Regions from separate parts of the Homo sapiens genome. Here region 2 is linked to region 1. A link means that fine-mapping ties the variant in region 1 to the expression of a gene that starts in the linked region. Tissue or cell type: whole blood. Region 1 holds a variant in brackets; the other region holds the start of a gene. All regions are shown on one strand. Distances are from middle to middle.

The links. PIP is the estimated chance that this variant, and not a neighbour inherited with it, causes the effect.
Region 2: it holds the start of PLD1, and the variant in region 1 is fine-mapped to the expression of PLD1 in whole blood (TOPMed, PIP 0.99).

The regions. Positions count from the first base shown.
Region 1 is chr3:171,697,444-171,702,708 of GRCh38, forward strand. It overlaps PLD1 (phospholipase D1), which reads right to left. Exons shown (of 27, transcript NM_002662.5): 12 at 2,302-2,383. Among named protein-coding and RNA genes, the nearest start is that of PLD1, 110 kb to the right of the region's middle. The variant G/A (reference allele first, on the strand shown) is at 2,337.
Region 2 is chr3:171,808,442-171,813,441 of GRCh38, forward strand. It overlaps PLD1 (phospholipase D1), which reads right to left and starts at 2,042. Exons shown (of 27, transcript NM_002662.5): 1 at 1,958-2,042.

The DNA.
Region 1 (5,265 bases):
ACACATTATTTTGATCAGACCACCCCTGCTTCCCCACACCGCCCTGCCCCGCACAGTACTGCCCCACTGTCTCCCATAAAGTCAAACCACTAGCTTGGCTCACAAAGCCTCTGCATCCCAGCTGCAACTAGCAGTTCCAGCTTAATCCCCCATCCGGCTATGCTAACACTCAGATGTGATGAACCACCCTACCGTGCCTGACAAAGTCTTTGGCACTGCTGTTTACATCTACTACACCTAGAAAGTTCTTCTTTCCCTTTTAAAAATGTTTGTCCATCCTAAATGCCCCACATCCTTCATGTTGTGTGGAGCTCCCCAACTGGACCTTTTCCATTGGGAAAGCCCAATGCTTTCCCTCTTGCCATTAAATCGGGGCATTGTTTCTGCATGCAACTGACACTTCTGCAGATTTTATAAGCTCCTTCAACTTAAGAATCATGGCTTTTATTTATGTACATCCTCATATGATTAGCCAAATGCCCTGCACATAGAAAACATTCAATAAATACATATTGATTGAAACCTAAAACAGTGAGGTGCTGATTAAATATTATAAGCAAAAATTTACTAGTATTAGTACAGATTGCTACGCAAGGCTGGAAAAATGTACTAAAATAGAATCTTGAGGGAAAATGGAAAAGATGCCATTTCATTGAGAGAAACATAGAGAAAGTTACTGCCCATTCAATAGGTAGAAAGTAGTCTGGTAAGGCTAGGACTGAGCCCAAGACATGAGTCCCTCAGCAAGTTCGCCACTGGCAAGGTTCAAATCTGATTCATGGTGGCATTCTTAGTGATTACCGTAGAAGCTGGCTCATAGGAGACAGTAACCGTATGATGAATTATTTAATAAATATGTGAATAATGTTTTCAGAATCAAAATGTCCAATTCTGTAACTGGAATTCTATTGATGAAACAAACTAGACTATCCATCAAAATGATGTTGTTTGGCAGAATGTGTTTCAAATAAATATTATCAATTTCTTTTGCTTTCAATATTAGCAGTGAGGTCTGACTATATTTGTGGATATCCCCAGAAATACTCAAGTAAATGCATGGGGAAAAGATACAGAAAGAAAAGGGGAAAGTGAATGGGGAAATAAAAAGTGGAATGCAGAGGATAGGAAAGAAGAAATGAGTGAAAGCTATGAGAAACAGAAAAATGCTAACCCCAATTATTTAGGCTCCACACGTTCTGCTAGCATGTTTAATGACAGAATAAAAAAAGGTTGGCCGGGAGCGGTGGCTCAAGCCTGTAATCCCAGCACTTTGGGAAGCCGAGGTGGGCAGATCACCTGAGGTCAGGAGTTCAAGACCAGCCTGGCCAATGTGGTGAAACCCCGTCTCTACTAAAAATACAAAAATACAAAAAAAAAAAAAAAAAAGCCAGGCATGGTGGTGGGCACTTGTAATCCCAGCTATTTGGGAGGCTGAGGCAGGAGAATTGCTTAAAGCTGGGAGGCAGAGGTTGCAGTGAGCCGAGACTGCACCATTGCACTCCAGCCTGGGCAACAAGAACAAAACCCCATCTCAAAAAAAAAAAAAAAAAAGGTTAAGACAGTTTCTGATAATAGCAAAAAGTTAGCACTTCCTAATTTGGACATGCTAAATAATAAATCCCAGATCTATTTTTAATTTAAACTGATTTAATTTTAAGGGCCTATTACATTAAAAAAATCACTAGAAATATGAATGCAGTCATTAGTGAGCCTAGGCTGCTTCAGTTATTTACTTTTTATACCTAAAAAGCACACATTCAATGTTCACCCAGAATGTACAGGGTCAACTCCACAGGAAACAGTTTCACATTTTTACCAGGAACTTTACCAAAACCAGAGAAAAAACACCACCAACTGTGACTATTCCTCCCCCTTTAATATTATTCTACACCACATTAGCCCCATCTAGCTGAAACCATTCTCCAGATGAGTTTTCCTTTTGCTTAAATGACAAAATAATGAATACAATTAAATGCTATGCTCCATTTCATCATTTATTATTCAATGATGAAATTTTATTATAATTTTTTTGCCTATAAAATTAGCTGCCCATAACTGATTCAAAAATAAGAATTAGAGATGCTAACATAATCCATGCTGTGAATTAGTCTAAAATATTTATGCACTCAAAAGCAATAGGAATAAAATAGAACCAAATGAACTGGAAAACATTAGTTATCCTACTTTTTGTCAAACTCTAAAGTGAAAAGTTATACGTGTGAAAGGCTTTGAAAAGAAAAGCATTTCAGAGACAACAGACAGTTAAAAAATTATATCAGCATTTTCTGGGAAAGTACATACTGCTTTTCGTTTAAGAATGCAGTCCAACCTCCAAC[G/A]ATTTCCCTCAACCACTGGGCGTTTCAGGAAGATTTCTGGACTCAGCCTGAAACAATGAAACCAAGATTTTAAGTAACTAAAACAAAATATAAAGTTCTGATTGTGTCATAGGAAGCAAAGGCAATTTCAGCCCAATTCAACCCCATTATCATCCTCCATTGTGATGGGTAATCCAAAGCTTTACTATGAGTCTAGGAACAACTTCGTATGGGAAAAATAGCCTTTAGCTATACAAAACATCAATCTTAGTTCTTTCTCTCTCTCTCTCTCTCTCCCCCCTCTTTAACTGTCTCTCATACCCACATGCTCACATATGCACACAGGTACTGTTGGTTGCCCACCCACAGCCAATCTCCAACTTCTTCCCTGCTCTCAGAGCCTCTCTCCCACCACAGACTGAATATTCTAGATACTTGCTTTCCCAGACTCCTGTGCAGCTAGAGCACAACGTGACACAATCCTGAACAATGAGATATATGAGGAGGTACACAGGGGCTTAATGGGAAAGTTTTTCCTCCCTGAAACACACACACAAACACACACACACACACACACTCTCTCTCTCTCTCTCCCTCTCCCTCTCTTTCGCTCTCTCTCCCTCCCTCTCTTTTGCTCTCTCTCCCTCTCTCTCAGAGAAAGCCCTGCCCACACTTCCAGCTTTGGGATGGATGTTGTATGGGAGTATGATGCTTACAGGGGTGCAGCAATATTGAAATTCTAAGGGGAAGACCATAACCCCAGAATCACTAAATCACTCTGCCAACCTCAGGATTGCCCAACTTTAGACTTAACATTAAATGTGAAAAATACATCCTCAGTGTTTAAGCCCTCTTTAGTTGAACATTCTGTTACCCCAAACTAAAAGCATTCTAATAGATACACAGACACATGACTTCCTATACAAAGAAGCAGCATCTGAGGGAACCTGGGGCTTTCTGGACAGGGGAGAAGGAAGGTCGGCTGATATATGAAATTTTTCCTAGGCTCTTCTCCTTCAGTAAGGCATAAGGCAGCTAAGGTAAGCTAAGCTTCACAAGGCAGCTAAGAGTACAATAGAGTCATTTTTCCCCTGGGGCTGGGTTCTAAAGTTAGTTTCTGAGTTAAACATGTACATGATGTAACTTCCCTGTAGTTAGAAAAAAGAAGCAGTAGAAAATACTCCTTTCTCCACTGAACTGCTAGACCTGAGGCAGCAGAGGTAGACTATGTCAGGATGAAAGCCTTATGGAATTCTGCACTGGAGTATTGCCCTCCCAGGCAGCCCTCTAAGCATGTGAAATCAACAGTGCTTTAAGGAGCTAAAGAGATTAAAAGAAATCAATTTTATGCTCTATTTCATTCAGTTAAAGAAAATAAAAACCCAGAGATAAAGTTTCTAAAGGAAACGTTATTGGGTAAAATAAATAAGGAAACAGACAAATGGAAGAGTTTGGACAGTGTAAGTCTTGCATATTTAATTGAGAGTAGGAAACAAACTCAAAGGTAATCTATGTCCAAACAAGCAAACAAACAAATAAAGCACAGCAATTGATCAGAAAAGATCAAAGAAGCATTAAAAGGAAATCTGTTTTAAAATAGTAAAATGCATTGCTGTGCACTGCTAGTTCACCAAAAGTGAGAGATAGCCAACAACATATATACAATTGCAATTTTTTGATGTGTACATTAAATATGGGCTCAAAGAGCTTCGGTATGGGGGAGACTTTTAATGTCATACTCTGCAATTAAGTATTTATCATCATTTATTTCATTTAATCCACAAACATGTGTACCCTTGTATGCTAAGCATTCTACAAGATACTTTGAAGAATCTTAAGATAGCTCTTGAGGAGCCCTCAATTTTGAGGATAATGCATAAAAAGAAAAAAAGATTTTGTTATATCATGCTATAAAAGTATAAACCATGGCTGCATGGCAAGAAGAAAGCAGCTATAACTTACCAAGCATTATTATGTAAGAATCTTTACTTACTTGTAAACAAAGTTATTGTTTAATATTACATTTCATTGGATCTAGGACACCAGTGACTGTAGGATGCATCGTTACTGCATGTACCACTAAGAAAGAAAACATCATGACAACTATAACTGTAAGAGCATAAGATGCATCCTGATTGCGGAGATATTAAGACGTACCTCTAAGTAAGTGTACCACTTAGAAGATTTAATGACTTTAAATGCTTACATGAGAAAGACAAAAAATTAAAAATTAATGATCAGACTTTCCTTTCTTAAAAGATAGAAAAAGAAGACATTAAACCCAAAGTAAGAAGATGGGGGAATAATAAATATAAGAGTAGAACTTGATGAAATACAAACCTGAAAAAATACAGAGAAAATTCAATGAAACTAGATGTTGACTCTTTGAAATATCAATAAAATTTGTGAACTTCTAGCAAGGCTAAAAATAAATGACAAAAAAATGATTGAAAGGATGGGCTCACATGTATAAACCCAGCACTTTGGGAGGCTAAAATGGGAGGATTGCATAAGCCCAGGAGTTTGAGACCAGCTTGGGCAACATAGCAAGACCCTGTCTCTACGAAAAAATTTAAAAAATTAGCCAGACATGGTGGCTCATGTCTGTAGTTCCAGCTACTCGGGGGGCTGAGGTAGGAGGATTGCTTGAACCTAGAAGGTTGAAGCTGCAGTGAGCCACGATCATGTCAGTGCACTTCAGCCTGGGCAACAAAGGAAGACCCTGTCTCAAAAAAAAAAAAGGAGTGAAAGACAGGTAATCACTATAGGGCCTAGAGGCATTATAATTATATTAAATGAATAATAACTATTAAAAATAACTGTATGCCAATATTTGTGGTAATTTAAATAAAATAAACATATTCCTTGAATAAAATATTTTCATAATGAAAATAAAAAGAAATTGAAACTGACTTCATAGCTATTGAAAAACTGAATTTGTAATTAAAAC
Region 2 (5,000 bases), 110 kb after region 1:
AGGAGAATGGCGTGAACCCGGGAGGTGGAGCTTGCAGTGAGCCGAGATCGCGCCACTGCACTCCAGCCTGGGCGACAGAGCGAGACTCCGTCTCAAAAAATAATAATAATAATAATAATGACAGTCCTACTTTTCCTTTGTAACAAAAATAAAAGTTACCTATAAGAGTTAAAGGTAAATAAAATTTGTAATTTTAATTAAGAAACACTAAGTAAACATACAACTTCCAAGAAGCCGGGTTCCCCACTACCTGGTTATAAGTAAGTCTACAAACCTAAATGAGCATTGTACAGCGCTTACTATAGTTCATAATTATTCTGTCATCAGGGACAAACATTGTAAAGACACTTTTTCCTCAAAGCCTTAGCATTCAATTTTTTTTTTTTTTTTTTTTTTTTTTTGAGACAGATTCTTGCCCTGTCGCCCAGGCTGGCGTGCAATGGCTCCATCTCGGCTCACTGCAACCTCCGCCTCCCGGGTTCAAGCGATTCTCCTGCCTCAGCCTCCCGAGTGGCTGGGATTACAGGCGTGTGCCACCACGCCTGGCTAATTTTTGTATTTTTAGTAGAGGCGGGGTTTCACCATGTTGGCCAGGCTGGTCTCAAACTCCTGACCTCAGGTGATCTGCCCGCCTCAGCCTCCCAAAGTGCTGGGATTACAGGCGTGAGTCACCGCGCCCAGGCAGCACTCCAACTTTTTATATGGATTGTTAACTGTACTGGTTCTTGAGAAGCCAGACTGAGCGCTTATACAATTAGTCCAAAGATCCCCAAACAACATTTAAAGGCTGTCTACAAATTCAAGCTAAAAGACTGTGTACAAATTCATTTGTGTGTCACAAAACATTTAATACTGAAAGAGATTCTTATTCAAATAGGCAGTGTGTAAATGTGGGGTCTGTTAACAGTTCAAATTGCAGATTCCTTTCCTTCTTTAAGTTTTCATTGCACCACCACGAACTAAACCATTTAACATACCTCAGAGGTCTCTGGGTACCTAGTCTCTCAGAGGCCTTTGGAGGCCCACGAAGGCTTATCTTAACTAAAATTGGCAGGGCTGGCTGATAAAGTTAACGGAACTCCCCATTTTGGAGGCAGACTTAGTAATGGTCAAACGAAGAAACTGTTGTGGTCTGTTCTTAAAAAGCTACTAGTATTTAGTGCTTCACAGAGGAAGTAAAGAAAGCAATAATCCGAGATGAGGAGGAGCAAATACAGGCGTGGCGGTAGTTCAGGACTGAGTCTACAAGGGCGGTTCTCAAGGGCGTCACAAAATCCTATGGAAGGCTTGGAGGACGGCACTCCTGGATCTGAGCCCTACGTCCCAAACACCTTCAATCGTATTGTGAGGAAGAAGACCTTTTACACACTCCCTGCTGCTGGCCCCCGGCCCCCTCGCCCCACCTCCGAGTGGTCACATCACACGGCGGGAGCCGCGGTCAGCAGCTGTGATCACACCCCCAGGACCGTGCTCTGCGGGCTGGGCTCGAAGCCTTGGGACGCGGCACTTCCTGGTTGGTACGGGATGCCGGTCCCATCGCCCCCACCAGCCCAGTCATGCCACCGCGCACCCGAACCAAGGGCGCCCGGATGACCTGGGGACACCACACACACTGCACCCGAAGCCCTGTGGCGGCGAGGCGGTGCATCCTGCAGAGGACGCCTGGGCTTCAGCCTGAGCCTGCGCGGCTCTGCGCTCCAGGCAGCCGCCCGCGCGGCAAAAGTGCGTGCCAGAGTTGTCAGCTTTCACCCTGCAGGAATTCCACCCGAAGGCGTGCGAGGGAGGCCCTTGGGGATCGCTAGGGAGTCCGCCGCCGACTCACTCGCTGAAATCCCGTCCAAGTTGGGCGGGGAGCGGCCAGCTGCCCAGGTTGGGCGGAGGAGGGACGGAGGGCGAGGGCAGTGGAAACCCGGCTCCCACGGGCGCCCGGTGATCCGGGTCTCGGCGCGGCTCCTACCTGCAGGGCGAAGGGGCCGCTAGCACCTGCGCGTTGGCGGCGGACTCTCAGGGCTCGGGTGCCTCTGGCACAGCTGGAGCTCAGCGGGAGGGAGGGAGAGAGGGCGGGCCGGAGGGGGCTCTGCGCTGCGCGGCCGGCAGGAACTCTCCGCCCGGATTCGCCCCGGATTCGCAGGGGTGGAGCGAGGCGGTGCCAGGTCCCGGGGCGTCGCGGTGCCGGCTGGAGGCCCCAGCGGGGCAGGTCTCGCGACTGGGCCTCTGATCGCCCGCGTTCCTTGTTCTCTTTTCCCAAAGTTTCATAACTCGACCGCATCACCCTAGGGAATGCTCGCTATTAGGACCATTATCAGGTCCTCTCGAGCCGCCAAGGACCAGCCACCTTTCCCGGAGCTTTGCCTATGATATCTATTCTTCGACTACTGCGGATAGTAGCCACAACTGGTCCAACTTATAAGTAAGGAATCAGCAAATCAAACGGCTAAATAACTTGCCTGAGGTGACATAATTAAGAGACTGGAGCTTTGCTGGAGTCTTTATAAGCCTTCTTGCACCTCCTTAGGGAAGTGTTATCGCCAATTTACAGGTAAGGAAATGAAGGCTCAGAACCAGCCCGAGGTCACACAGCTTAGATGGAGGGGGACGGGAATTTGTGTCCCGATGTCTCTAAAACTGGTTATAATTCAGAAATCTTAGCATAAAATAATAAATTGGGAGCAAAACAGGGAAAAGACCCATTCCACCTATGGAACCGTTCAAACACGGCAATTTTGCTGTTTTCAGTCCACTTAGAATAAAGTCTTAAGAAAAAGAGAACCAGTTGTCATGTGGCTTGAATAGCAGCCCTTTGGGAATGTAATTTTGAATATAGGCCAGTTCCAACCTCATTACACGATATTGCATCCCGCCAAAGCCAGGGGAAGCAATGGCCTCCCCATGCACCAAACTGCTAATAACGTCAGCCACTTTAAAGCATTTAGTGGATATTACACAACTGCGACTGACCAAGTTACATAATGTCTTACTGCACACATGGCATTGCATGAAATGAAAAATATAATATACCAGTCCAAATTAGGGGAGGGGGGCCAAATTATAGTCTGGAACTCAGTTTTCCTGTAACCTACAGTTGCTCAGCCCTCCTTAGACCACATTTTTGTCTCTTGAGCACATCTTTTCCTAATGATAGAAGAGTCACACAGCCCTCACTCTTTCCTTGTTGACATAAATGATTGATGTCTTTTGAATCCTATGATACTGACAGATTTTTACAATTAAACACATGACTCTCTGAGCAGAGTATTGCCTAAGAGGAGTTTAGTAAGTTTCAGACAAGCATGTTACTGGAAGGCAGAATACCCTCTCTCCTCCCCTCTTTCTCAAGCTTTATTAGTCACAGATGGTCTGATAAGTCTTGTGCACACACGTAACTGCATTCTTACAAGCTTGTCTTTAGAAATTATAATGCTTTTGGTTGAGAAGCAGCAGTCTATAAAATTGCATCCCAAATTCTTAAGTGTCACTATGAAAACATTTGGCACTTGCCTCCAACAATAGGTCTTTCTACTAAATCTAATTAGAAATAAAATTATCAAGGCCAAGCGCAGTGGCTCACACCTGTAATCCCAACACTTTGGGAGGCCGAAGCGCGTTGATTACCTGAGGTCAGGAGCTCAAGACCAGTCTGGGCCACATGGCGAAACCCCGGCTCTACTAAAAATACAAAAATTAGCCGGAGGTGGAGGCAGGTTCCTGTAATCGAAGCTATTCGGGAGGCTGAGGCAGGAGGATTATTTGAACCTGGGAGGAGGAGGTTGCTGTGAGTTGAGATTGCACCACTGCATTCCAGCCTGGTGACACAGCAAGACTCTGTCTCAAAAAAAAAAAAGAAAGAAAGAAAGAAAGAAAATTATCTAAGTGCCCTTACAATAACTGAATTTCTGCCTCCCTGGGATAGAGGAATAAAATAGGAAATGCCATATGTTGTTTAGAGATGAACTGAAGCTTATGGACTCCCAAACATGAATTTTAGAAGTAGTATGATTTTGTATGTAATTATTTTATTTTCCTGAGAGATTTTGTGATTTTTCTTTCCAACTCTTTCATATCTTCAAAGATGTCAAGAAACAGTGACTAAGTAATCATGCTATACATTCATCTCAATATGCACTTGACATTTTTGTCAAAGTGGTATTTGAAATCCTTTTAATTGTTCTATTTTCTTCTGAGAATAAAAACATATATGTTCATTTTTATAATTTTAACATCTATATTTTAGAAAAAAAATTTTACATCTATGTTTTAGAGACCACAGAAAAACATTTTTAATTAAAATCACCTATAACTCCCACACACACACTCTCTATTAGCATTTAGTATATTTCCTTATTTTTTCTATGCCCAGAGGTTTGTTATAAAATTAACACCATGCTTTACAGAGTTTAGAATCTTCCTTATCTCACTAAGTATTTATAAATTGACTATTTTTTACTGTTATTAAACTTTCTTTAAGATATCATTTCTGTGGTTGAAGAATATTACAATCATTTATCAAATGTTTTAGGATATTTTCAGACTTTATTGCAGTTTACAAATCATGCTAGAATGAACACTACGTTGCATCATCTTTGTCAAGATCTCTACATCCTTAGGATAGATTCCTAAAAGTAGAAATACTGGATCAGCATTTAGAAACATTTTTAAGGTGCTGTGTGATGCTGCAAAAATACCCTCCAGTATTAAATATTGCCTTGCTTATAACCTGAAAATGTCACGAATCAAAATCATATCTTGTTTTAATCAACTTTTTTATAATCAGTAATGCTGAACACGATTTTTTCATGTTATTATTTGTACCATTTACTGAAAATGATCTATTCATGTCCATTACCTGTTCTTTTTCTATGGTAAATTAGTTTCTTGTTAATTTGCAATAATGCTTTCAACAGAAACAGAACTATTTTATCAAAGTGACATACAAATGGTGCTCCCCCAGATTTTCCCTTGTGGTACATTTGATACAAGCACTGCCATCCAGATCATCTAGT